Homo sapiens: one gene and its partners. The protein of the gene in region 1 purifies or fractionates together with the protein of each later gene. This does not show direct contact. Each region holds a gene or a part of one and is shown in the gene's direction. Other genes may lie near its edges. The genes, in order: SLC22A11, CRYBG3, TTC27, HEATR6, PCK2, RAB15 and RHOF.

Evidence for each region.
Region 2: the proteins of SLC22A11 (region 1) and CRYBG3 purify together in Homo sapiens (affinity purification with mass spectrometry; one large-scale study listed by BioGRID and IntAct). This does not show direct contact.
Region 3: the proteins of SLC22A11 (region 1) and TTC27 purify together in Homo sapiens (affinity purification with mass spectrometry; one large-scale study listed by BioGRID and IntAct). This does not show direct contact.
Region 4: the proteins of SLC22A11 (region 1) and HEATR6 purify together in Homo sapiens (affinity purification with mass spectrometry; one large-scale study listed by BioGRID and IntAct). This does not show direct contact.
Region 5: the proteins of SLC22A11 (region 1) and PCK2 purify together in Homo sapiens (affinity purification with mass spectrometry; one large-scale study listed by BioGRID and IntAct). This does not show direct contact.
Region 6: the proteins of SLC22A11 (region 1) and RAB15 purify together in Homo sapiens (affinity purification with mass spectrometry; one large-scale study listed by BioGRID and IntAct). This does not show direct contact.
Region 7: the proteins of SLC22A11 (region 1) and RHOF purify together in Homo sapiens (affinity purification with mass spectrometry; one large-scale study listed by BioGRID and IntAct). This does not show direct contact.

The regions. Positions count from the first base shown.
Region 1 is NC_000011.10:64,562,441-64,565,940, forward strand, and holds part of SLC22A11 (solute carrier family 22 member 11), read left to right. Parts: intron 1-1,867; coding exon 1,868-1,988; intron 1,989-2,781; coding exon 2,782-2,897; intron 2,898-3,500. UniProt on the Homo sapiens protein: Antiporter that mediates the transport of conjugated steroids and other specific organic anions at the basal membrane of syncytiotrophoblast and at the apical membrane of proximal tubule epithelial cells, in exchange for anionic compounds.
Region 2 is NC_000003.12:97,870,511-97,874,010, forward strand, and holds part of CRYBG3 (very large A-kinase anchor protein), read left to right. Parts: intron 1-1,331; coding exon 1,332-3,500.
Region 3 is NC_000002.12:32,626,733-32,630,849, forward strand, and holds the start of TTC27 (tetratricopeptide repeat protein 27), read left to right. Parts: upstream 1-1,317; 5' UTR 1,318-1,560; coding exon 1,561-1,648; intron 1,649-3,790; coding exon 3,791-3,968; intron 3,969-4,117.
Region 4 is NC_000017.11:60,061,922-60,065,421, reverse strand, and holds part of HEATR6 (HEAT repeat-containing protein 6), read left to right. Parts: intron 1-3,500. UniProt on the Homo sapiens protein: Amplification-dependent oncogene.
Region 5 is NC_000014.9:24,100,811-24,104,310, forward strand, and holds the end of PCK2 (phosphoenolpyruvate carboxykinase [GTP], mitochondrial isoform 1 precursor), read left to right. Parts: intron 1-1,942; coding exon 1,943-2,080; intron 2,081-2,349; coding exon 2,350-2,445; intron 2,446-2,699; coding exon 2,700-3,154; 3' UTR 3,155-3,315; downstream 3,316-3,500. UniProt on the Homo sapiens protein: Mitochondrial phosphoenolpyruvate carboxykinase that catalyzes the conversion of oxaloacetate (OAA) to phosphoenolpyruvate (PEP), the rate-limiting step in the metabolic pathway that produces glucose from lactate and other precursors derived from the citric acid cycle.
Region 6 is NC_000014.9:64,962,337-64,965,836, reverse strand, and holds part of RAB15 (ras-related protein Rab-15), read left to right. Parts: intron 1-3,500. UniProt on the Homo sapiens protein: The small GTPases Rab are key regulators of intracellular membrane trafficking, from the formation of transport vesicles to their fusion with membranes.
Region 7 is NC_000012.12:121,787,189-121,790,688, reverse strand, and holds part of RHOF (rho-related GTP-binding protein RhoF), read left to right. Parts: exon of another isoform or gene 1-534; intron 535-3,500. UniProt on the Homo sapiens protein: Plasma membrane-associated small GTPase which cycles between an active GTP-bound and an inactive GDP-bound state. Causes the formation of thin, actin-rich surface projections called filopodia.

The DNA.
Region 1 (3,500 bases):
TATGATGTGGGACCTTTTCCTTAGGAGACCCAGGGTGGGAGGGGGACTCTTCACTTTCACCTCTCTGGCTGGCAGTAGGTCCAGAGACCTGGAGTGCCACAGAAGGGCCATGGCATGAGCGGCACCCTCGCTAGGGAGGGACATTGGTGATTGGCAGTCCTGGGCTAAGTGTTGCAGCCCGAGGTCCGTGGCTCCCATCCAGCCCAGACAGGCCAAGATGGGCTGGCACAGCATTGGCTCAAATGGTGATTTAAAAAATACATTTGTAACTAGTTGCTAACATTTAAAAATCAGAAGATTTTCAAAAACAAACAAAAACAGTATTTTTTACCTTCTTTGGAAAAACTGGAAGATCCAGGGGCACTGGGCTGAACTTCGGCCACAGTGGAAGCGGCCGCTCTCCCGGTCCCCAAGGCCCCACTGCCGCTGTCCCCTGGGCTGAGGCTGTGAGCATCGTCCTTCCTCAATACTTGCACCAGCCCCCACCCACCAGCTTCACTCCTTCACATACAGTGCGGACCAACATTGGATATGAAAATAGATTGTTGTCACTACAATTTTAGGGGCCGCAAAAATCCCTAAGGTCTGGAAATCCCTCCTTGGGTTGGCACTGAGGAAGGAGACACAGACAGGTGCAGAGGGTCTTAGGTGCTGGGGACACACAAGTGAACAAAACAGGCAAAAACCAGTGGCCCCGTGGAGCTTACGTTTCATACACAGATCAATAAGTGAAGAGGAAGGCCATCCCATAATTACAATAATTAGGCCATCCCCGCCACGCTGATCAGGTGTGTACCAGGTGCAGTTTATAACACTAGGTGCGTATTAACACACCTTCTAATAAGTAAGATGATGCGATTACCACCATTTTCAAATGAAGGACCGAGACCTAGAAAGGTTAGGTCACTCACCCAAGGTCACACACAGCCGGTGAATGCCAGAGGCAGGATTTGAACCTAGGCAGGCTAACTCTTCACCACTACGTCAGACTGCCTCCAGAAGTCCTTCTTAGCTTCCCTGCAAACAGGGCTGAGAGCCGGTGGGTTGGGCAGATCCTGTGCCTTCCACCAGGAAAGTGTTTCTCCTGGCCCACCTGCCCCTGAGGTTGGGGAGAAATAGACTGGTTTTATAAAATCACCTGGTTCTGCCTGGGGATATTTTAAATGTGCTAAAAAAAAAAAAAAAAAAAAAAAAAAAAGGCCGGGCACAGTGGCTCAAGCCTGTAATCCCAGCACTTTGGAGGCTGAGGCAGGTGGATCACAAGGTCAGAAGATCAAGACCATCCTGGCTAACATGGTGAAACCCCATCTCTACTAAAAATACAAAAAAATTAGCCATGGTGGTGCACACCTGTAGACCCTGCTACTCAGGAGGCTGAGGCAGGAGAATCACTTGAACCTGGGAGGTGGAGGTTGCAGTGAGCCAAGATCGCACCACTACACTCCAGCCTGGGTGACAGAGTGAGACTCCATCTCAAAAAAAAAACAAAAAAACCCAGCACCAAGTGACCTTTCTATCCTAGAAATAGCCCCAGAATCACTGGTGAAGCAGCCAACTCTAGGGACACCCATGCCCAGGCCACCTGTGCCCTGGCTGTGTGCAGGGCTCAGGTGGGCAGGCCCCGGGCAGCCAGGCGAGCCAGATGGAGGTGGCTCGCTTGGGAAGGTGGGCGGCCAGGCATTGGGACTCAGCTTTATTCTGAAACCGCTGGGGACTGCCAGGCTCCTGGCTGGGCAGCAGCGGCACAGAAGCATGTGCTTCCTCATCACTCATCTCAGCTGGAGGGTCCGTGCCCACTGCCCCTTTCCACCCCGCCCCGGGGGAGAGCCCAGCGTGCACTCCCAGCTACACACCTGCCTCCTTACAGGTGGCTGCCAGAATCCGCCCGGTGGCTGATTATTAAGGGCAAACCAGACCAAGCACTTCAGGAGCTCAGAAAGGTGGCCAGGATAAATGGCCACAAGGAGGCCAAGAACCTGACCATAGAGGTGAGATGCTGCTGTCTGCGAGACTTGACCTGGGACAGGACGTGCACTGAGGGATCATCCGTGTGGCCTCCAACAGCACCACCCACTCCAGCACCACCTCCACCAGCACCACCACCAGCATCTCCACAGACACCACCAACACCTCCATCACCACCTCCACACAGACACCACCACCACCACCACCAATCCCGATACCATCACCAACAGCACCACCACTGTCCACACCCACCATCACCTTCACTGCCATCACTCCATCACCACCAGCACCACCAATACCATCACTAACCCCACAGCCACCATCTCTGCAAAACATCTCCACCACCTTCACCACCATCGTCACCATCGGTAACAGCACCATCATTATCAACAGCACCCACACCGTCACCTCCATCACCCACCACCTCCACCTGCATGTAGCACGCACCCACCTCATGGGGGTTCTCGATGTGTCTGGGGAAACAGAATGTGTTTATTTGAAGGTAGCTGCTTTCAGGAAACAGGCGCTGCCAGAGATTAGAGTGAAGATGGGGTCGGAGGATAAGGGAAGGCTTCCAGAAGGAGGCAAGCTAGAGCTGAGAGGACCAGGGCTGAGTCAAACCTGCAGAAGAGCCAGGGCCTGGAGAGAACCTTTTCTGCCCCATCCCCTCCCCTTCCCCTAGGGATCCAGCTTCCAGAGGCCGAGGCCCAGGACAGGCTCCCCGTCACTCTGGCCACTTGGACACTGTTCTCTGGCACAGGGGGTGGGGCAGGGCCATTGCCCTACCATTCACGGTGCCCCCATTCTCCCCGGAAGGTGCTGATGTCCAGCGTGAAGGAGGAGGTGGCCTCTGCAAAGGAGCCGCGGTCGGTGCTGGACCTGTTCTGCGTGCCCGTGCTCCGCTGGAGGAGCTGCGCCATGCTGGTGGTGAAGTACGCCGTCCTGGTGTCCCTCCCCAAGGCAGGGCTGGGACAGGCAGGAGGCAGAGCTGGGACAGGCAGGAGGCAGAGCGTCCAGGGGAAACAGCACCCGCAGGCCTCAAGGGGGTGCATTTCTGTCTGGGACAGGACGCAGACAGCCCCAGCAGGCAGGAGTCCTGGCAGGCAGCAGAGAGGGACTATGCACAGGTGGGATCTGGAGGCTGCCATCTGCAGGAAGCCAGAGGAAAAGGCAGCTCTAGGCTGGGGGTCCCAGGGTCCCAGGGAGGTCCCAAGACAGAGGCAGAGCCAGGGTCCCTAGAGCCAGGGGACCAGCCACGGCCGAGGAGTACCACTGTGTGTCATCGTTAGAGACTTACCACTTTCCTAGAGACCATGGCCATGCTCCTAGAGGGTGAACCTGCATTCGCTGACCCCTCCATGCAACCCCACTTCACTGATGGGGAAAGAGGATCCCAGAGGGGTAAGGAACAAGCCCAAAATAATAGAGCCTGCATTGGAACCGGGCTGAGCTAACACTTGGCTTACCGGCACTGTCACTGCCAGGGCCCGCGCGACCAGACCCTGGCCCTCCCCGGGACCCAAGGTCATCTGGGC
Region 2 (3,500 bases), on another chromosome or scaffold:
ACCACATTTTCTTTATCCAATCTACCATTGATGGACATCTAGGTTGATTTCATGTTTTTGCTATTGTGGATAGTGCTGTGATGAACATATGAGTGCATGCTATTTTTTATAGTCAGGAAATTGAAAGGTAATTAGAGTTCAAAATGTAAAACATTTTGATTATCACATATAAGAATTAAGACATTCTTTTGAAATAGATTACTTAGCAGTAAGTATCATTCCTTTACTTATTCATTAATTCATGAGAAGGTATTAAGCATATACAACTTGCCAAATCTTGTGTGGGGCACTTAAAAACAGAAAGATGATTAGGACACAGTACCTTCCCTCAAATAGCCACCAGGCTAGTGGGGAAAATAAATAAGTGCATAGATCTTTATGATTTAATGTGACAAATGTTGTGCTCTGTGCACCCAGAGATCAAAGACTAACTGTCCATCTTAGTAGTAGAGGGATAGGTTTGCAGTGGAAATTATTTGTGTGCTGAGTCTTAGAGGGCATTAGAGTTTCCTTCTGATGCTGGCATTAAAGGGCAGAGAATGATGTGTGTAATTGGCTATAAGATAGTATGGCGTGATGTGAGAACTCGTAGTGGTAGATTCTCCAAAGGAAATTGGGTGCTGAGAGCATCAGGATCTTTATACTGTGGTTAGATTTCTATACTTACTCTAGACATCTTTTTTGATTTTTGCATTTGCCCAAGCAGTTTAATACTATACTAAATGAATATTTGAAGAACTGAACACAGAGAATTTTAATGCAGTTTTGTCATTTATTGAGTTAACAAATACATACTGAGTGTTTACTGTGGGCTAGACATTTTGCCATCTGTTTTCATTTAAAACGTTTCCAAGTTACGTGCTAAACATTGCTGTTCAAATTCACATGTAAGAGTAAAGGAATAGAAGGTCATTATGATGCTTTAATGTGGTGGAGAAGTCAGTGATGTATCCCTAAACTCGTAGTAATATGAGGCCCAAAGTCAAGCTGGTTACTTAGAGTCAGACACTCCTTTGAGATTAGAACTAGGACCCAAGGCTTGGACTCATATTCTGTTAACCACAGTCAGAGGTATGTATGTAATCAGGTAAGAAGGAGTAATTCTAAGGAGGTCAAACATTCTTCATGCTGCATTGACATTCAGGTGCTACTTGTTAAATTTTTATTATTTTTAATAAAGGTAAATTTAAAGCGTTCTAGGATTTACTCCCCAAATTGGTACATATTAAGGGAAGTGGTGTTTAAAAGATGTACTTTTACCACAGTTGCTGGGATTAGTATTAAGTATTATTAATTATATTTCCTGATACTCTCATGCTTTCTTTTTACAGACAAATCGATGGTAAACCAGAGAAGCCTTCAGTAACATATGCAACATATCGAGGCCCAAGACACATTGGGAAATATTTAAAGCAACAGACAGGCTTGGCAACTGTGAATACCTTGGACAGAGAAAATGAAAGTTCTGACTCTAGTACAAACAGACACATTGACCCTGGAAGTGAGATTGAGGCTGGGGTACTGCCACTGTTGTTATCAGCTAGTACAGACTCATCTATGAAAGGAAATCTACTTGAAGGCCCATTAGAAGACTCTGATTGTAGCAAAACAAGTTTCAACAAGGAAAATTCTTTGACAAATAACCCAGAACTGCAGAATATTGCCTCTTCCAATAATCTTTTAAATAAAAATGCTTGGGGGAGTATTGAGAGAAATAGGTCATCCCCTTCTTCTGTGACTAACTCCAGCTACGATGGAGAATCTGACTCACAGCACCATTTAAGTTGTGAACCGGTTTCTCAGACTAACAGAAATTTGGTATGTTCAGCATTGTTAACAGGAAGTAACCATCGCAAAGTCCCTTGCAGCCCAGATTTTCAGAGAGTAACTACAACAGAAAATACGATAAAAGAAAACAGCACTGTGATGAGTAATAGGACATTGGTGCAAAGAGAGGAGCTTGTTGAGCCTCAGGGCCCTGCTATTTCTGATTTCTCTTGTAGTAAATCTGATGGGAGTGACACTACTGAGCAGGAAAGTACAAATTTGCCAAGTCCAAATAAATCAATTAGGCATGAACATCTGCAGTTGCCAGAGAGTGAGTGTTCTGACAAGCAAACCATAGATAGCTCATCAAAGCAAGCTGCCACTCACACCAATATCATTGCTCTTCAGAGACATGCTGTGACAGACACAGAATTTGTAAATGAAGGAAAGAGATTGTCTGCCCAAGACTCACAGAAAAATGTGGCTGTTAGAGAAATCAGGCGAGAAACAGAAAGTGCCTCAGCTGGTGAATCCATAGCTTCAAGTCATGTAAAAGCTCCAGAAGATAAAATTGAGTCATTACCCAAAGATACTGACCAATACTTTGAAACCAAAGCCAAAAAGCTTGATTTTAGGTCACATGATAAAATTCCTCATATTAGAATGAATAAAAAAGACCTGGCCTCTTTAAATTACATCAGTGAATCAGCAGTTGTAGCAAGCTTAGGAAATGAAAATGCACCTGAGTTGAAATTTGAACTTAATAGAAGTCACATTTCAGAAACTCCTCTTGACTCTGAGAGTCCTCAACAAGCTGAAGTATCACCTGATGCTAAAACATCTCTTAGCCTTGACTGTAAAAAACTAAATTTCAGTATTTCACCTCCTACCTTTGTTTCTGGAGTTGGGATGCTGAGCAAGTTGGATATTCCTGATTTAATGAATGAGGGTTCTCCTGTGCCCATTGAAACTGGGAATGTCAACATTGTTGGTATTTCCTATCAGCCTAGGAAGTGTAAAGAAGAAAATGTGAAAAACCATGTTGAGGCTGCAGGCAGGAAGAGTCCTCCTCCTTCCTTTTGCCTTGAATATACATCTGCAATTTTTGAATTCAAAGAAGTTCTTTCTAATAGTGAAAAATGCCAGGTTCTTCCAGGTTCTGAAGCCAGTGGCCCTCACTTAACTGGGTTGGAGCTATTGAGCTTTGACTCTGGAAACCTCTCTAAGGATTGCAGTTCCATTTTATCTCAAGACCCTAATAGAGTAGAGTTAGTGTCTTCAAACACTAAAGCAAATATGAGCATAATAGAGAAGTCTGATTCTCTTTCCTTGGAAGCCAAAACTGCTAACATTGTATCAAAAGCTGAAATTGATGGTCAGAACAATGTTCTTGTGGAGTCACATTCTGGAAGAGGAAAAACTATATCCTTGTCCAAGGTATCTCTTTCAAAAGTGGAGCCCAGAAACATTTCTCAGGATAAAATGTCTTCTTTTCCATTGAAAATTACCCATGTTCCAGAAAAGCCTATTTTGTCAGAATTAACCTTTCTAGAAGTTGAACAGGGCAAACGTTTTCAATCAATTAATCATAATGAGATAGGAGAGAAATGTTCAGATGCTGGCCTTAAAGAGAATTGCCAAGCTGAGCTTTCTCCTGCTGCCTCCAAATATGAAGATAAGCCAGAACCAGAGGTAGATGCCTTAGGCTCTCCTCCTGCTCTTCTTAAAAGTAA
Region 3 (4,117 bases), on another chromosome or scaffold:
GAAAAACAGTTTTTAATTACTTCTCAGTGGGAGGACATTTTAGGGCATCCGCTCTTCTCCAATCACAGTCAGGTCCGGCTTCCTTTGGTATCTGATGGCAATGGCTGAAATGAGCTGAGCTGAGTTCCTCTCCCTTCACATTCTGGAGTGGCTCTTTACTGAGTAAGAAAGTGAATTAACATTTATTTAGCTTCTTCCTTGGAGCTGGGTACCGGGTCAGCCTCTTTTCAGAGAGCTTTTGCTCTTGTGGTCAGAGTTACCCTGCAGTTTTCTCCTGGCTCTTACATGACATATCTCAGTACAGGTGTCAAGCCAATGGGACAAAGCCATAGTCCTGTTTTCCTTCCCTCCTTCCCTCCCTCCCTCCCTTCCTTCCTTCTTCCCTCCCTCCCTCCCTCTTTCCTATTGCCCAGGCTGGAGTGCAGTGGCACCATCTCAGCTCACTGAAACCTCCGCCTCCCGGGTTCAAGCAATTCCCCCGCCTCACCGTCCCGAGTAGCTGGGTTTACAGGGGTGCCCCACTACGTCCGGCTAATTTTTGTATTTTTAGTAGAGACGGGTTTCACCATATTGGCCAGGCTGGTCTCGAACTCCTGACCTCAGGTGATCCATCCGCTTCATCCTCCCAAAGTGCTGAGATTACAGGCGTGAGCTACCGCGCCCGCCCTCTAACTGTTTCTTTGGAGTGCTGCTAGGAAGATTCAAAGAAGTGCAAATAAGGTACCAGCGGAGGCTGGTTTGTCTCCTTGCAATTTCTTTGTGATCACCCCTGGGATCACTCTTCTACAGCGTTCCGACAGTGTTCCAAAAACTTCCCTGCACCAGCGGCAGGGGCAGATTTCCCACCCGGCCATGATTCATGTAGAGCAGTGTCAAAACCAGATCCTTTCCTTACACGCTCATTCGCCGAAAGACCCATGCTATGCTGACGGGGTTCCAACCTGGGCTTCACCGACTCCACGTCAGAGGGTCTGTGATTCCCTGAGAGGGTACCCTTAGGCTGAGAGCAAGGGCCCACCTGCACTCTGCGCGAAGGACTGTGGTTTTCATCGGGTTGTCGAGAGCGTTCTAACCCAAAATGCTTTAAGAATCACAACTCTAGCCCTTCTAATCAAACTGCTTTGGCCAAGACGTCCGTTTTGAGTTGCATTTGAACCCTAGCCCTCGGTGGGAGGCACACTCACTTCCACGTTCACAGTTCTTGGAAGCGGTCCCACTGGGGGCGGGGCTGAGCGCGACCGCGCCCTCAACTCCCCCTATTGCCCGCCCCGGGGTGGGGCATAACCACCCAACAGGCTCCTTACTCAAGCTCGGGTTCTTCTCCTAGGCGGAAGCCAGACCAGAGAGCGTGCGTGTTTTTCCCAGGGTGCCCCGCGCTGCTGTTATGGCCGCCTCCTTGAGGTAGTATCCGCACATGGAATTCTAGGGCCGCAGGTGTATTTACGGTAACTGTCGCCACTAGATTTCAGCGCCTTTGGACTCTCCTGTTTTCACTTTCTTTTGTTGACTCCCGTGTGGCCCTCGTGGGAGCCTGTTTTGGCTGCAGCGGTGTCTGGGGTGATGTGGACCCCGGAGCTGGCAATTCTGAGGGGATTCCCCACTGAGGCTGAGCGGCAGCAATGGAAACAGGAGGGGGTCGTCGGTTCAGGTGAGAGGCGCACCTACCGGGCCTTAGGCTATCGTGGGAACTGTGAGGAAAAGGGATGGCAGCGACTGATTCTCATCCCTCCCTTCATTTTTCCCTAACACAGTCTAGCTGATTCCTTGAGGCTTTGGGTCGTTTAGTCTTTGACATGGTGGGCGTGGTCCTCACTTTCTTTGCGCAAAACTTCTTACCGCCCAGGTTCAGTAATAATGACAATGGCAATGTCAGTTATTTTTCTAAGCCCTTAACATGTACTCAGTCATTTAATGCTTATAGTAGATACTTAAGGTAGATTCAATTTTTAATCCCATTTTGCGGTGAAGATCTGTAAATACAGTTGGGTTAAGTAATTTTATTTTATCTATTTATTTATTTATTTATTTATTTATTTATTTATTTATTGAGACGGAGTTTTGCTTTTTGCCCAGGCTGGAGTGCAATGGCGCGATCTCGGCTCGCTGCAACCTCCGCCTCCCGGGTTCAAGTGATTCTCCTGCCTCAGCCTCCAGGGTAGCTGGGATTACAGGCATGCGCCACCACGCCCGGCTAATTTTGTATTTTTAGTAGAGTCGAGGTTTCACCATGTTGGCCTAGCTGGTCTGGAACTCCTGACCTCAGATGATTCGCCTGCCTCAGCCTCCCAAAGTGCTGGGATTACAGGCCTGAGCCACCGCGCCCGGGTCTGGTTAAGTAATTTATTTAAGGTCACACTGTTGGTAAGCAGAGGAGCTAAAATGAGGCAGCAAAGTTGTTTTTTTGGGGGGATGGAGTCTCCCTCTTGTTGCTCTGGCTGGAGTGCACTGGTGCCATCTCGGCTCACTGCAACCTCCGCTTCCCCGGTTCAAGCGATTCTCCTGCTTCAGCCTCCAAAGTAGCTGGGACTACAGGCATGCACCACCATGCCCGGCTAATTTTGTGTTTTTAGTAGAGACGGCTTTCATCATGTTGGTCAGGCTGGTCTGGAACTCCTGACCTCAGGTGATCCACCCGCCTCGGCCTCCCAAAGTGCTGGGATTACAGCCATGAGCCACCATGCACGGCCTAGGCGGCAATGATTTATTTTTTTTATTTTTTTGAGACAGAGTCTCGCTCTGTCGCCTAGGCTGGAGTGCAGTGGCGCGATCTCGGCTCACTGCAAGCTCCACCTCCCGGGTTCACGCCATTCTCCTGCCTCAGCCTCCCGAGTAGCTGGGACTAAAGGCGCCTGCCACCACGACCAGCTAATTTTTTTTTTTGTATTTTTAGTAGAGACGGGGTTTCACCGTGTTAGCCAGGATGGTCTCGATCTCCTGACGTCGTGATCCACCCACCTCGGCCTCCCAAAGTGCTGGGATTACAGGCATGAGCCACCGCGCCCAGCCTAGGAGGCAAAGATTAATTCTTGTGAGCAATGAATATTTACCAGAGAGATAAAGAGTTAAAAGGCACATGCACTGGCACATCTGGTTGTGGGATTTAGGCTGGACCCAAAAGAGTAATAATGAACAGTGTAGTGTGTAAGTACTCTGTGTGTATGTGTGTGTGTGTGGGCACTTGTGTGACACAGTAGGTGCTTCCAGTGACAGGAAGTTTGAACTTTGGTGGCCTGGAAAACTTTCCTAGAAGAAGTTAGACTTGAGCTGATTTTGGATTAAAGGGTAAGACTAACAAGTGGAGAAGAGTTCAACAGGCGATATCACAAGTGCAAAGTGTGGAGGCAGGAATACGCATGGGACATTAGGGAAACAATGAGTAAACCAGCGCTCTTGGAGTGACTTTTCAAGAAGAGAAAATAATGGAGGTAGAAAGAACCAGATTGTGAAAAGTTTTAGAACCTTGACTAAGGAAACTTTTGTATTGTCAGTAGGAATCTTTGTGAATTTCCCAGCAAAAGACTAAATACCTATTAATGAGGAATATTATTTCTGGGGCTGACTTCCACTTTGGGGCTCATAGTCAGTATGAGTGAGCTGCTAATTCTAGGAGAGAGAATGTTTGTAGAATGATGGAAATTTACTGAGTGCCTTGTGACTGACATACAGTAATCATTCTAAGTCTATAGATTGTTTTTGCACACTAAAATGGTAGATTTACCTAATAGTGTTATCCTTTACGGTATGAAAAATAATTTTTTTTGGATTACCGCACTAATTTTTTATATTACAGAGAGTGGATCTTTCCTACAATTGCTACTGGAAGGGAACTATGAAGCCATATTCTTAAATTCAATGACTCAAAATATTTTTAATTCAACAACAACCGCTGAAGAAAAGATTGATAGCTACCTGGAGAAGCAGGTAGTAACATTCCTGGATTACTCAACAGATTTGGACACAACGGAAAGGTAGAATTTTATTTGAAATTTTCATAGAGGAACAGAGCAAATACATTTAATAGCACCTTGACAGGGTAAGGCCCTGATTTTAGCAGTTGAGAAACCTTGCCTTATATTTTACTCAAGACTCATGGTGTACCAAGTAATCTATGTAAAAA
Region 4 (3,500 bases), on another chromosome or scaffold:
GGCCAACAGCATATTGTTCCTTTTCTGTTTTTAAGATTATTCCTTAAGGGGTCAGGGGTGGTAACCCACAATACGTTGGAATTCCATATGAGTCATCTCCTTGAGTAACTTACTATATAAGAAAATTTCTGGATGACCCATCAGAAGCTTTTACAAGGTAAAGAAAAATAAATTAGCCTCAATTTTATATACACGCAAAAAAATGACTTGTGGGGTATTTCAAATACTCCTTATCCTAGGAAATTAAACTGGCAGAAATTTTACAAATTAACTAAATCAATAGTGAATGAGAACCTAGGAGAAAAATGGAAAAATGAGTGGTGGCAAATAAATCAGTAATGAAGCCATTAGAGTAATTGAAATAAAAGCTACTAAAAATATTGAAAATATATATTTGAAGACCCTCCAGCTAGGGGAGCTGCCAGCAGTGGCCAACGAGATGGTGCTGTGGAGCAAGAAGCAGCCCAGCTTTATCACCTTTATCACAGCTGCCCAGCCAAGGGGATGTGGGACACGGGGGTTTAGAACAGGAATACAAAAAGGTTATGAGGTCATAGCTGATGAAAATGAATTGGAATAATTTTCATGATGTTTATATCTTCATATATTTTTAAATGTTTACATTTCACTTAAAGTGCCATGAGAAATTTCACCTATTGCAAAGTGGTCTTATCCATCTCCTTGATTTAGGTACCTTTTAGACTTGTTCTTGCTGTTTAACTTTGGTGAATGCAAGAGATGTGCTGAGGAAAAAAGATACAGAACTTCCTTCTGGAGATGTTGTAGATCCAGTACAAAAAGCCACAAGAAAATCCTAGAGAAAAAAAAAAAAAAGTCATCCTACTTAAAGTGGATTTTAAAAGATGAAAGAAATTAAATTAGTTCAGTGTAATGGCAAGTGAAATGATCGTACTTAAGAGATTCTTTTAATCAAGTGTTAGCTTGGAAGGGTTTAAATAAGTGTGGTAATTATTGTTTACAACAGAGCTTGGAGCATACCTTTGCAGTCTGTCCATAGTGTGATTAACTGTGCACCAAGACATATGCTAGAAAAAAGTGTTGTGGTAGGTGATGTCATGGGACAGGCTTTTGTTTGTTTGTTTGTTTGTTTGTTTGAGACAGAGTTTTGCTCTTGTTGCCCAGGCTGGAGTGCAATGGTGAGATCTCAGCTTACTGCAACCTCTGCCTCCCGGGTTCAAGCAATTCTGTCTCAGCCTCCCGAGGAGCTGGGACTACAGGCATGCACCACCATGCCTGGCTAATTTTGTATTTTTGGTAAAGATGGGATTTCTCCATGTTGGTCAGGCTGGTCTGGAATTCCTGACCCCAGGTGATGTGCCTGCCTTGGCCTCCCAAAGTGCTGGGATTATAGACTTGAGCCACCGCACCCGGCCCAGTGGGACAGGCTTTTAAAATAAAGACTTCTAGAAAGTTATGTGCATTAAAATTAAAAATAACAGATCATGTAATTAGAATGGAACAGCATTCTGGATTGACCAGGTTAAAAGAGCTGCCATGACTCCAGGCCAAGTGGTCATCTCAGGTGCTCCTTGTGCATATAGAGTTAGATGGCTGGAGTTCCTCTTAGCCAGGATTAAATAAGACAACTGTAGTTTATCTTGTCATTGAAGTGCTTAGTGATTAGTTTTGAGTTTATGGCAGGTCTGATATGACCCATGGCATACTCAGCTGGAAGCACAATTTTAACTGGTGTACTAAGAAATTTTCTAAAGACAAATGGACAGAAGGAAAGGTGATTAGACTCTTCCAGTCAGAATGCCAACAATAAACAGAGGCTACTTTTAGGAAATTGAAACATAATATGCTAGAATGGTTAATTGGGGAGAAGAAAACTTAGAAATGTCCATTCGGATTTGGCAGTGCTGTGGTACTTGGGAAATGATCACATTTCCATGTTGGAAATGTGCTTCATAGAGCACATCTTATACACTTCCAAAAGGGACAGAACAAATTATCAATAAAAATAACAAGACTAATTTAAGAATTTCTTGGATATGATTTCCTTAGGTGTTATAAACGCATATTATGGAGAATATCATCAAGACTTGTCTTAAGAAACAAACTACAGGGCAAACCTTTGTCTTGGTACCTTGAGAATTATCCTGATTTACAAATTTCATGATGATGATTTATTGCTGTTTCAGATAACTATAAAAAGTGAAAACAAATCGAAATCTAGATAATAGTGGTATAACTAGAAAAGAGAATGAAAAGGTTGGAATTGTTAACTGTTATGGAATGGTAGATTTTCTCTCATATGGCCAGCCAAGAACAGGCAATCTTTGCTTAGTGTATTAGCAAAGAACAGGCAGTCTTTAATTAGTGTATCTGTATTGACGCTTCTGATAAAGACATACCCGAGACTGGGAAGAAAAAGAGGTTTAATTGGACTTACAGCTCCACATGGCTGGGGAGGCTTCAGAATCATGGCAGGAGGCAAAAGGCACTTCTTTACATGGTGGCAGCAAGAGAAAATGAGGAAGAAGCAAAAGCAGAAACCCCTGATAAACCCATCAGATCTCGTGAGACTATCACGAGAATAGCAGGGGGAAGACCAGCCCCCATGATTCAGTTACCTCTCACAAGTCCCTCCCACAACACGTGAGAATGCTGGGAGATATAATTCAAGTTGAGATTTGGGTGGGGACACAGCTAAACCATATCACTTAGATACCTCCCAACCCAGAGTCCCTGACACAATGTTGAAATGCTGTTACGTAAAAGACAACTGACTTTGGAAGTGAGATCCAATAAAATAACATGTGAACAGTCATGTGCCCTGCATGGAAACTTCAATGTACCTACTCCCAGCAGGGACTTCTTTGTCACCCTTCCAGAAATATTCTGAGACCAAACACACATAAAGAGGAAAAAAATTAGGATTGACTAGGCTACCTCAGCAAACATTTGTGCTACGTTCTTAAGTAGCAAAAAAGGAAAAGTACTTTTCTGTTTTATTAGCTTTAGACAAGTCTTCATGTCCAAGGAGGTGAAACTATACACTAGTAAAACCAAGCACACTGACTTCTGTAAGACTGAAAAGCCTTTCATTCATCATTTTAAATATTCAGACAATGAAAACTTAACAAAATGAGCTCTCTGAAGAGCTACACCTGTTATGATTTACTTGCACGTTAGTAATTTCTGCTGAAAGTGCTGATTAGGACTGGTAAACCAGATATTAAATATTGATATAAGAGCAAAAGAAGCAAAACTTGTACCAGATTCAGTATCTTAAGTAACAATTATAACAACAAAGATATGTTAAACAGAGTTTAAAGGAAATTAACTCAGAACTGTGAGAAGTACAATTTGATATAGTATCAAATTTCTATATAGATTTTGTAACTTAGTGGAAAAAAATAACCAATTTCAATGACATTTGTTTTCATCTGTGATAGTCATGATTTTCCCCTTAAGATGCCAAAATTGTGCTAAAATTTTTGACTTTTGGAACATTAGTTCATTTCTTTCCATTC
Region 5 (3,500 bases), on another chromosome or scaffold:
TCCTACAAACAAAATCAGGTCAGTGCTTGAGTCTTTCCCAGAAGCTAGTTTCTGAATCCTGTCATTACCCTGGGCGCCTGGGAGTCCCACCTCTCCCTCAGCCCTGCACTCTGGACCTTCAGTATTCTTTCCATGGCCTTCTGCAGTCAGGCAGTCCAGACACCAAGAGGCAGGGGCAAAGAAGAGCATGGGAGGGGAGGCTGGCCTTGTAGTCACTGAAGCCTATATTCAGGTTTGCCAGGCTGGCCTAGCAGTCACCCTCCTTGCTTCATCTAATCACCCTTTATTTTTACTAACACCATCATTAAGCCCCCCTCAGCCTTCCCACCCAACTGAGAAATCCAAGAAACTTTCATCTTTCCCCACAGGCTAGTTCCCCAACCCTTTCATCATCTCCAGATTTGGGGGCATAACTAGGGCATCTTGTCCCCAGCTTCAATTCCCAGAATAATACCCTGTGTTAGGATTCTGCACTGGGTGCTGAAGAAGGATGGCTCTTATCTGCAATGGCGGGCAGAAGCTGGCGGATGGGAGAGGGTGGGGATTTTGGCCCCGTGGCTTCCCCACTCCCCAGGTCTGACCAGCAACCTCCAGCAGAGAAGGCACCATGTCCACTCAGGGGCCACACAGTGGTGCTTCATACATGTGCCACTGACTTAGTCCCAACCCCCCTCCAGGACACCTGAAGGTGCCAAGTGTGACCTGGGCTCCTGAGGTTATCCCTACCCATGTGATATCCCTATCTCTATTTTTCCAGCCCTATCACTTCATCAGGGTCTAAGCAGGGCAGGGAAATCACCAACATGTTGTTAGCTTTAAAATCAATTCCTTGCAGGGCACAGTGACTCACATCTGTAATCCCAGCACTTTGGGAGGCCGAGGCAGTTGGATCACCTGAGGTCAGGAGTTCGAGACCAGCCTGGCAACATGGCAAAACCCCGTCTCCAATAAAATACAAAAATTAGCCAGGCATGGTGGCTCATGCCTGTAATCCCAGCTACTCAGGAGGCAGGAAAATTGCTTGATCCCAGGAGGCAGAGGTTGCAGTGAGACAAGATCATGCCACTGCACTCCAGCCTGGTGACAGAGTGAGACTCCGTCTCATAACTAAATTAATTAAGTAAATAAAATCAGGCCAGGCGCAGTGGCTCATGCCTGTAATCCTACTACTTTGGGAGGCCAAGGTGGGCAGATCAGTTAAGGTCAGGAGTTTGAAACCAGCCTGGCCAACATGGTGAAACCCCATCTCTATTAAAAATACAAAAAAATCAGCCAGGCATGGTGGTGGGTGCCTGTAATCCCAGCTACTGGGGAGGCTGAGGTAGGAGAATTGTTTGAACCTGGGAGGCGGAGGTTGCAGTAAGCCAAGATTGCACCACTGCACTACAGCCTGGGCAACAGAGCAAGACTCTGCCTCAAAAATAAAAAGATAAAATAAATTCCTATTTGCATTTGGATAACTTAGGAGAACCTGTCTTCCCCGGTTTGCTGACGGAAAGTCAATTGTCTGAAGTACTAAGCTGACATTCTCAGTTTTTGCTTTAGGTTTGGGTATTCATTTAAATAATAATCTCACAAATAATGAAATAGTTTCTGGGGGAAAAATTATTATAACCTTATGCCCATATCTAACCCCATTCCCTTGAGCCCTGGTCAGTGCCAAGTGCCAGTAGCTTGGCACAAACATTAGTGCCCTGCCAAACCCCAATTCCTCTCCCACTCTTTTCTCACATAGCTCAGCTGGCCGCACCTTCATGGCTAAACAACCTGAGCTCTTGGAGATGCCCTGGCTCCCCTCTCTCTGCTCCTTATCACACAAGGTTCTAGGCAGCTGATGAGGCAAAAAAAAAAAAAGAACCCTGCAAGAATGTGTGCCCATGTATGTGTGTGTTGGGGGTCGACATGACCTTGGAAATAATAGTGTTTGTATTTCCTCTGCCAGGTGACAAGGAGCCCTGTGCACATCCCAACTCTCGATTTTGTGCCCCGGCTCGCCAGTGCCCCATCATGGACCCAGCCTGGGAGGCCCCAGAGGGTGTCCCCATTGACGCCATCATCTTTGGTGGCCGCAGACCCAAAGGTAAACAACATATGAGCTCCATGTTCTTGGCAAAAGGGCTATCTCTGTATTAGGGCCTACCTCCCTCCCTCTGATCCAGAGCCTCAGCCTGGATCTCACCTTTCTCCAGAGTTCTCCCCTGGTGAATGCAAACTTGGGAGGAGGCAAAGGGTCTGAAAATGGGATAGCCGAGGTCTTAGGAGAGAGAGTACCAGTCAAGCTCACCAGAAGGGCTGGAGTTAGGGTCCAAAGAAAAGGGCTGCCTGTGACTCTGTTCATTGGTGATCTAGGGGTACCCCTGGTATACGAGGCCTTCAACTGGCGTCATGGGGTGTTTGTGGGCAGCGCCATGCGCTCTGAGTCCACTGCTGCAGCAGAACACAAAGGTGAGCACCCTCACCATTCCTCCCTCTCCTGTGTGTGCACACAGCACGTCCTCTCTCCCTTCCTGAGCCAGACCTTCCTTTTGTCCACCCCTGGAGTCTGATATGGCCCCACCTCTTCCCACTTCTATCTTTTCCCCATCCCTGAAGATATTCAGAACCATAAGCCTTTCACAGCTTCCTCCAACTGGATGCAGGGTGCCCTTCCCTACCCCAGTGAGAAGGAAGATTCCTTACCCATCTTGCTTCCCCCCCAGGGAAGATCATCATGCACGACCCATTTGCCATGCGGCCCTTTTTTGGCTACAACTTCGGGCACTACCTGGAACACTGGCTGAGCATGGAAGGGCGCAAGGGGGCCCAGCTGCCCCGTATCTTCCATGTCAACTGGTTCCGGCGTGACGAGGCAGGGCACTTCCTGTGGCCAGGCTTTGGGGAGAATGCTCGGGTGCTAGACTGGATCTGCCGGCGGTTAGAGGGGGAGGACAGTGCCCGAGAGACACCCATTGGGCTGGTGCCAAAGGAAGGAGCCTTGGATCTCAGCGGCCTCAGAGCTATAGACACCACTCAGCTGTTCTCCCTCCCCAAGGACTTCTGGGAACAGGAGGTTCGTGACATTCGGAGCTACCTGACAGAGCAGGTCAACCAGGATCTGCCCAAAGAGGTGTTGGCTGAGCTTGAGGCCCTGGAGAGACGTGTGCACAAAATGTGACCTGAGGCCCTAGTCTAGCAAGAGGACATAGCACCCTCATCTGGGAATAGGGAAGGCACCTTGCAGAAAATATGAGCAATTTGATATTAACTAACATCTTCAATGTGCCATAGACCTTCCCACAAAGACTGTCCAATAATAAGAGATGCTTATCTATTTTACACAAGATTTGTGCTGTTTTCATTTCCCACCTATCTTCACAGGCTTCCCTCTAACACCTGTCTCACAATCATCTTCTTCCAGCCCCTAGAAGAAGCACAGCCTGGCACAATCAAAGATCTGTTTTACAGGTAGCTCTAGCACTGGGTCACAGACATAGGAATTGCTGGGAGAAGGCACTATCCAC
Region 6 (3,500 bases), on another chromosome or scaffold:
CCCACAGCTGGGAGCACCGGTTCCTCCCGCCTACCTGCACTCCCTGGTTTCTGTTCCTTCCTCCTCCTCCTTCCTTCTCCCCGCTCCCCAGACAGGCTGGTGATGAGCTTTATAACATGAAAGCTGATATTTGGCCATTATCCTTCTACCCTGATTGCCAGCTCTTCTCAGAGTGCCTTCTTCTGTAATCCAATCTTTGCACCAGTTTCCCTGTGAAACTGCCAGTTTTCTGTATAGGCCTCTGCCCTCTCCTTGGCTCTTCTCTCTGGTCAGTGAGCTTTGTCAAGGGGAACACAGGGCTTCCTGGACACGTAATTCCTCCCACTGAGGAGGAAGGGGCTAATCACCAGCCCTGTTTTATTTTATTTTATTTTTTTGAGATGAAGTCTAGCTCTGTCGCCCAGGCTGGAGTGCAAATGGCTCGATCTCGGCTCACTGCAACTTCTGTCTCCCGGGTTCAAGCGATTCTTCTGCCTCAGCCTCCTGAGTAGCTGGGATTACAAGCATGCACCACCACACCTGGCTAATTTTTTGTGTTTTTAGTAGAGATGGGGTTTCACCATGTTGGCCAGGCTGGTCTCGAACTTCTGACCTCAGCTGATCCACCCACCTCGGCCTCCCAAAGTGCTGGGATTACAGGAGTGAGCCACCATGGCTGGCCGACCCCATCTCTTAAAAAAACAAAAAGAAAAGAAAAGAAAACAAAACAAAAACACTTTTTAAATTAACTGATTATGGTGGCATGTGCCTGTAGTCCTAACTACTCAGGAGGCTGAAGTGGAAGGATTGCTTGAGCCCAAGAGTTGGAGGCCACAGTGAGCTGTGATCACACCACTGTACTCCAGCCTGGGTGACAGAGTGAGACCCTGTCTCAGGAAAAAAAAAAAATTACTGAGAACTCTGTGACCATGGCACCATGAACTATAGAAAGGGCTAACAGTTGGCTTTGAAATGTGGGTTATGGCTGGGTGCGGTGGCTCACGCCTGTAATCCCAGCACTTTGGGAGGCCAAGGTGGGCAGATCACAAGGTCAGGAGTTTGAGACCAGCCCGGCCAACATAGTGAAACCTCATCTCTACTAAAAATACAAAAAATTAGCCGGGTGTTGTGGCAGGTGCCTGTAATCCTAGCTACTCGGGAGGCTGAGGCAGGAGAATTGCTTGAACCCAGGAGGTGGAGGTTGCCACAAGCTGAGATCGCACCACTGCACTCCAGCCTGGGCGACAGAGCAAGACTCCATCTCAAAAACAAAAATAAAAACAAAAAAAAGTGGTTTGTTTTCTTTTCTTTCTTTTTTCTTTTTTTCTTTTTTTTTTTTGAAACAGAGTCTTGCTCTGTCACCAGGCTGGATTGCAGTGGAGATCTCAGCACACTGCCACCTCTGCCTCCCAGGTTCAAGTGATTTCCCTGCCTCAGCCTCCAGAGTAGCTGGGACTACAGGCACGCACCACCACGCTGGGCTAAGTTTTTGTATTTTAGTACAGAAGGGGTTTCACCATGTTGGCCAGGATGGTCTCCATCTCCTGACCTCGTGATCCGCCCACCTCGGCCTCCCAAAGTGCTGGGATTACGGGCATGAGCCACCACGCCCGGCCTAAAAGTGGGTTATTTTCTAATTGCTCTTCCCTGATTAAAATTTTCTCTTTGCCCATCTTTTCTCTAGATATGTACTGACTTCATTCATCCATTTATTCGTCTCACTTGCTCATTCATTTTTGCTTTCATTTACTCTACTTTGTTGAATAATATTTAGTGATCTACCTGCTGCCAGGCAGTGAGAGTCTGAAGTGAACAGGATGCTGCTTTGCCCTCTGGGAGCTTACAGTGTAGCTGGGAACCAGACATCCAAACAAGCAGAATATTATGCAAAAGAAATGTCAGGATGCTTTGGAATCACAGAGGAGTGAGAAATCCCTCCCGGGGAGGCTGGTGAAGGCTTTGAAGAGGAAGTGACATTTGAGTGGAGTCTTGAAGACTAGGCAGGATTCTCCAGGGGCCCTGGGTGTGGGGGAAGCACACATCCTCTTCCCTGTAGGAGGTGCTGTGGAGAACACCTCCAGTGGGGCTGCTACTCTTCAGCCTTGCTGGGGCCAGCTGGAGTGGCCACACCATGGTCACACCAGCTGAAGTTCAAGAAGCCCCTTGCCAGGAGATTGCTTTGCTGGCTCTGGGTGAGGGCAGGTGCATCTGGAAGCCCCCTTCTTTCTAAGATGTTTGCTCCTGAGTTTCTATGTCCTAGTCTTTTCTTCCCTGAACCTTTTGCTACCAGTCAGCACAGCCCTGCCTGAGAAGGAGGCTGGAGGAGTGAGTGGTCAGTAGCCTGGTGGGTCTTGGCTGCCTCTGTGGTGCCCGCTGGCCTAAGTAGCAGGCTTAGGGAGGCGAGACCCAGTTCCAGGGGCTGCCAATGGGGAGCGAGATGGGGTGGCTGGAGCACACTGCACATGTCACCAAGGCTCTAGGGAGGTCTGTGCACAAGGCAGTGGGAAAAGCAAGGGGAAGACCCAGCCTGGTCAACATGGTGAAACCCCGTCTCTACTAAAAATACAAAAATTAGCTGGGTGTGGTAGAGCACGCCTGTAGTCCCAGCTAACTTGGGAGCCTGAGGCAGGAGAATCACTTTAACACAGGAGGTGGAGGTTGCAGTGAGCCGAGATCGTACCACTGTACTCCAGCCTGGGTGACAGAGTGAGACCCTGTCTCAAAAAAAAAAAAAAAAAAAAAAAAAAAGTGGGGAAGGGGAACACTGATCCTGATTATCTACTCCATATACTTACTATGTACCTACTACCTACACAGGGACGGTGGGCTTTACGCATGCCATTTATTCAGTGTATAGAGATCTCAGCATCACATAGGAGCAGGGAGTTCTGAAGTTGGCCTTGCTGGCATTTGAGAAGTTTCTTGGTGTATTCTTCAGGTTCACGCCTCCAGACAAGTGTAAGTGCTATTGAATGCTGACTATGTTCCAGGAACTAAACCAGATGCTAGAAGACACGCAGTAAACAGTACAGATGCAGGTGCACATGTGAGGGTCCACACAAGACCTGAGAGAAGGGAGGGGTCTTGCTGCAGTTCCCCTTTTGTAACAAAGGAGAGAGTACTGTTGACCCTCTTCCTAGGAACTGTGAGTTTGACTGAAATGTGTCCTGCCACAGGATCTTTGCTGCTTCCTCTACCTGATTCTTTGGATCTCCCTGCTGGCACCTTCTTGTCATTTAGGTCTCAGCTCAAATGTTACCTCCTTTAAAATGTCTTCTCTGGCCAGCCAGTCTAAGGTTGCTTGTGCTTGGGGTCTCCTCACTCTCTACTTTATCCCGCAGTTGCTTCTTATCACATATGGCTCTCTGAAATTAGGTATTCATTACTTACATCTGTCTTCCCCACTAGAATTAAGCTCTGATGACAAGGATCTTTCTGTGCTGTTCATAGCTTATCTTCTAGTACCTGGCTTAGTTCCTGGCACATTGTAAGCATTCAATAACAGTTTGAATGAATGAATT
Region 7 (3,500 bases), on another chromosome or scaffold:
CTGACAGACCCCAAGGAGGGGCACCCAGGGAGAAGAGATCTGGCTGCTCCCTGTAGGGTATCCCCCCGTGACCAGGGAAGGCTTGCTCATAGGAGGAAATCCCCTGGTCAGTGAGTGCCACCAGGGAGAGCCCAGGTCCCAGTGCTTGTCATGGAGCAAGGCCTGGAAGGTGATGGAATGAATGGGTAGTGGATCCGAATGCCGGAGATGATTCATCTCGGCCTGCAGGTGGACGGCTCTCAGGAGAACAGGACAGAAAGCCATGGCCAGGCGGCCACGTAGAGAGAGGCAAAGGCCAAGAGGGTGAGGGAATGGCCAAGCCAGAAATGAGTCTAGTAAACGTAGTTGTAGAAAGTTCTAGAACCCAATGGGCCACACACAGTGGCGGAAGGGGCATCTTCCCGACTGGTGGCCACCAGAGCTGTGAGACAGGGGTGGCTCTCAGAGGCTGAATTTCTCCACACCCAGGACCAAACGCTGGTCCTGGGCAGGGGCCGGACGCTGCCCACAGGGGCCCTCGTGGAAGGCCCGTGTGGCTGTCTCCCTCCTGAGGAAGTAGTTACAGACACCACAGCGGAGGGAGGGCAGATCGGGTGACGGGGCTCGCAGGGCTCAGAAGGGAAGGGGCGGGGGCCATGGCACTCACTGCTCTGTCGGCCTCACCGGGGCCCTGACATCCTCTGAGGCAGGAAGCTGCGGTGAAGTCTGAAGTTTCCTGGGCCGGGGGAGGCGGGGTGAGGTGGGCTGTGAAGACACAGACGGGAGAGTGAGCTCATCAGGGCCAAGGTGTGGGGTCCAGGGTTAGAGGGGCACAGGATGGGATAGGGGTTGCCCGGGGAGCGGTGGTCCCCTTTTCAGCCTGAGATGGGAACAGAAAGAAAATTGTTAGGCAATGGAGTAGGATTTGCTAAGACAAGGAACCAGGGACAGATGTGTGTTGTGAGCCCCAGAAGCACCGGAGGCCTGGGCTGAGACAAGGCTGGGGTCACCCAGAAGGTGGTCTCAACTCCCAGCTGGGGCTGCCCAGCCCCTGTCTCCCTGGGAAAGCACAGGTGGGCGGCCCCCAGCAGAGTGAGTAAAAGTGGGTTCCTCTTCTGGCAGCTTCACTTCTCATGCTGCCAGTACCCCTCCCTGACCAACGCCGCAGCTGGAGCTGGGGTCCACCCGCCCTGTGTGTCCTCCTGCAGATTTGAGGTCTTTTTTCCTCAACTCTGCTCTGGGCCTTAGAGACCCCTGTCCCTGGAAGCAGGACTTCCTTGGCAAAGCCTCATCCCACCAAGAAAATAGCCCTGTGTGCGGCATGAGCCTCCCTTCCGCCCAGCCCTGCCGCACCGCCTGAGTGCACGTCAGGACGATGGGCGGCTCTAGGGGGAGCCCAGGCCTAGAGACTTCCTCACCAGAAGCACGTGCATCCTTTGCATGTAATTCCTGGGTTTTTTTTTGAGGTGGGGAATGGTTAGAGACAGGGTCTCGCTCTGTCACCCAGGCTGGAGTGCCATAGCATGATCATAACTCATTGCAGCCACAGCCTCTTGGGCTCAAGTGATCCTCCCATGTCAGCCTCCCAAAGTGCTGGGATTACAGGTGTGAGCCACCACGCCTGGTCTACCTGGGCTGTTTTAACCTCTAAGCCCATCTGCAGAGGCTGGATGGGCCCCCTCTGTGACTACGGGCAGGTGACATGGACCCTTTCAGCCCTGGTATCATTTTAGGTAGAATGTGGAGGGTAATGGTATCACCTGGTGGCTGGGAGGCCCCTGAAGCTTCTGGGTCCAAAGATTCTGGGGTTCTGACCACCCACCATGCCAGGCTATTAACTTCTCCTGGAAGTTTCAACAGTAACCACAATAGCAGTCCTCCTGCCTCCCGGCACTGCCCCCCACTCCACCCCTGCCCCTGCACTGCTCCCGCTCTAAGCATTGCCTCCCTTCTCCTGGGCTTTCACCTTCCAGATTAGGGGGAGGGTTATCACTGTTATCACCCCCTCTCCCAGATAAGGAAATTGACACCCAGAGAGGGAAATGTGGGCGTCAATTCGAGATGTGGAGGCTGCCCTGAACAGTCCTGCCCAGAATGTGCATGAGTGAATGGAACCTGACCCTCCTGACTCATATGAGAGAAGGTATTTATTAATAGTACGCTCCCCCATCCCCAAGTGGGCATGGGGTTGGTGCACACGGAAGTAGTCCTCTGCAGGCCTGGTCCCCCCACCACCCCCACGCCCCAAAGGCCCACACTGAATTCTAGGGAAAGCTGGGTTGGGCAGAGTCAAGCCAGGAAGGCAACCTGGAGGAGGTGCTGGAGTCGGAGCTGGCTGCCTCTCCCTTTCCAGAGGCCCTCTTTCTTGAGAGGGCTGACATTTTTCCTCACCTGGTCAGGGCTGGGACAAGTAGGGTGAGGATTCCTTCCTGTTTTCTGGGGTAGGCTAAGAAAAAAAAATACTCCAGTAAGGTCCTCTGTTATTTACAAAGCTTCCCCTTAGCTGTGTGGCCTGGGGCAAGTCACTCCAGCTCTCTGTGCTTCCGTTTCTCAGCCTGTAAAATGGGGCCAACAATAGTGTCTACCTTGTAGGGCTTTTGGGGGAAAGATGAGTTAATCCAGGTGAAGGGCTTTGAGCTAGACCTGGCATGTAACACAGTGGTACACACCTGCGGCCCCAGCTCCTCAGGAGGCTGAGGCAGGAGGATGGCTTGAGCCCAGGAGGTTGAGGCTGGAGTGAGCTATGATCACACCACTGCACTCCAGCCTGAGCAACAGAGCAAACCCCGCCCCCCCCCCCTTTTTTTTTTTTTTTTTTTGAGGCAGAGTCTCACTCTGTTGCCCAGGCTGGAGTGTAGTGGTTCAATCTCTGCTCCACCTCCCCAGCTCAAGTGATTCCCCTGCCTCAGCCTCCCAAGTAGCTGGGATTACAGGCATATGCCACCACATCCGGCTAATTTTTGTATTTTTAGTAGAGACAGCGTTTCACCATGTTGCCCAGGCTGGTCTTGAACTCTTGACCTCAAGCGATCCGCCCGCCTCAGCCTCCCAAAGTGCTGGGATTACAAGCATGCGCCACAGCGCCCGGTCTAGACCATGACTTTTATATGAGAGAAAGAGAGTCGATATTAACCATCTTTATTATGACTGTCATCAAGGCTCGCTCACTTTTCACATCTCCATTTCACAGATGAGAAAACTGAGGCCCAGAGGTTAATTCCCGGTTGGGAAGGCTGGGGACAGCTTCCTGGAAGAACTGGTGCTTTTAGAATGGCCTGGCAGGCAGCTGACCTTGGGGACTGGTTGGCCTCTGGCTCACAGGGTGCTTGTCTCTGACCTTGACAAAGGCCCCCTCCACCACTTGCGTTCTTAACAGGAAGAACTGTCCCCACCCAGCGCACCTCCCAGGGTGGCTGCTTGAATGAACACAGGTCAGGAAGTGGAATGCCCTTGCCAAGGCTGCAGGGCACCTAAAGCCAGAGAGATGACGATTAACCCTCTTCAACCACTCCTTCCTTTGA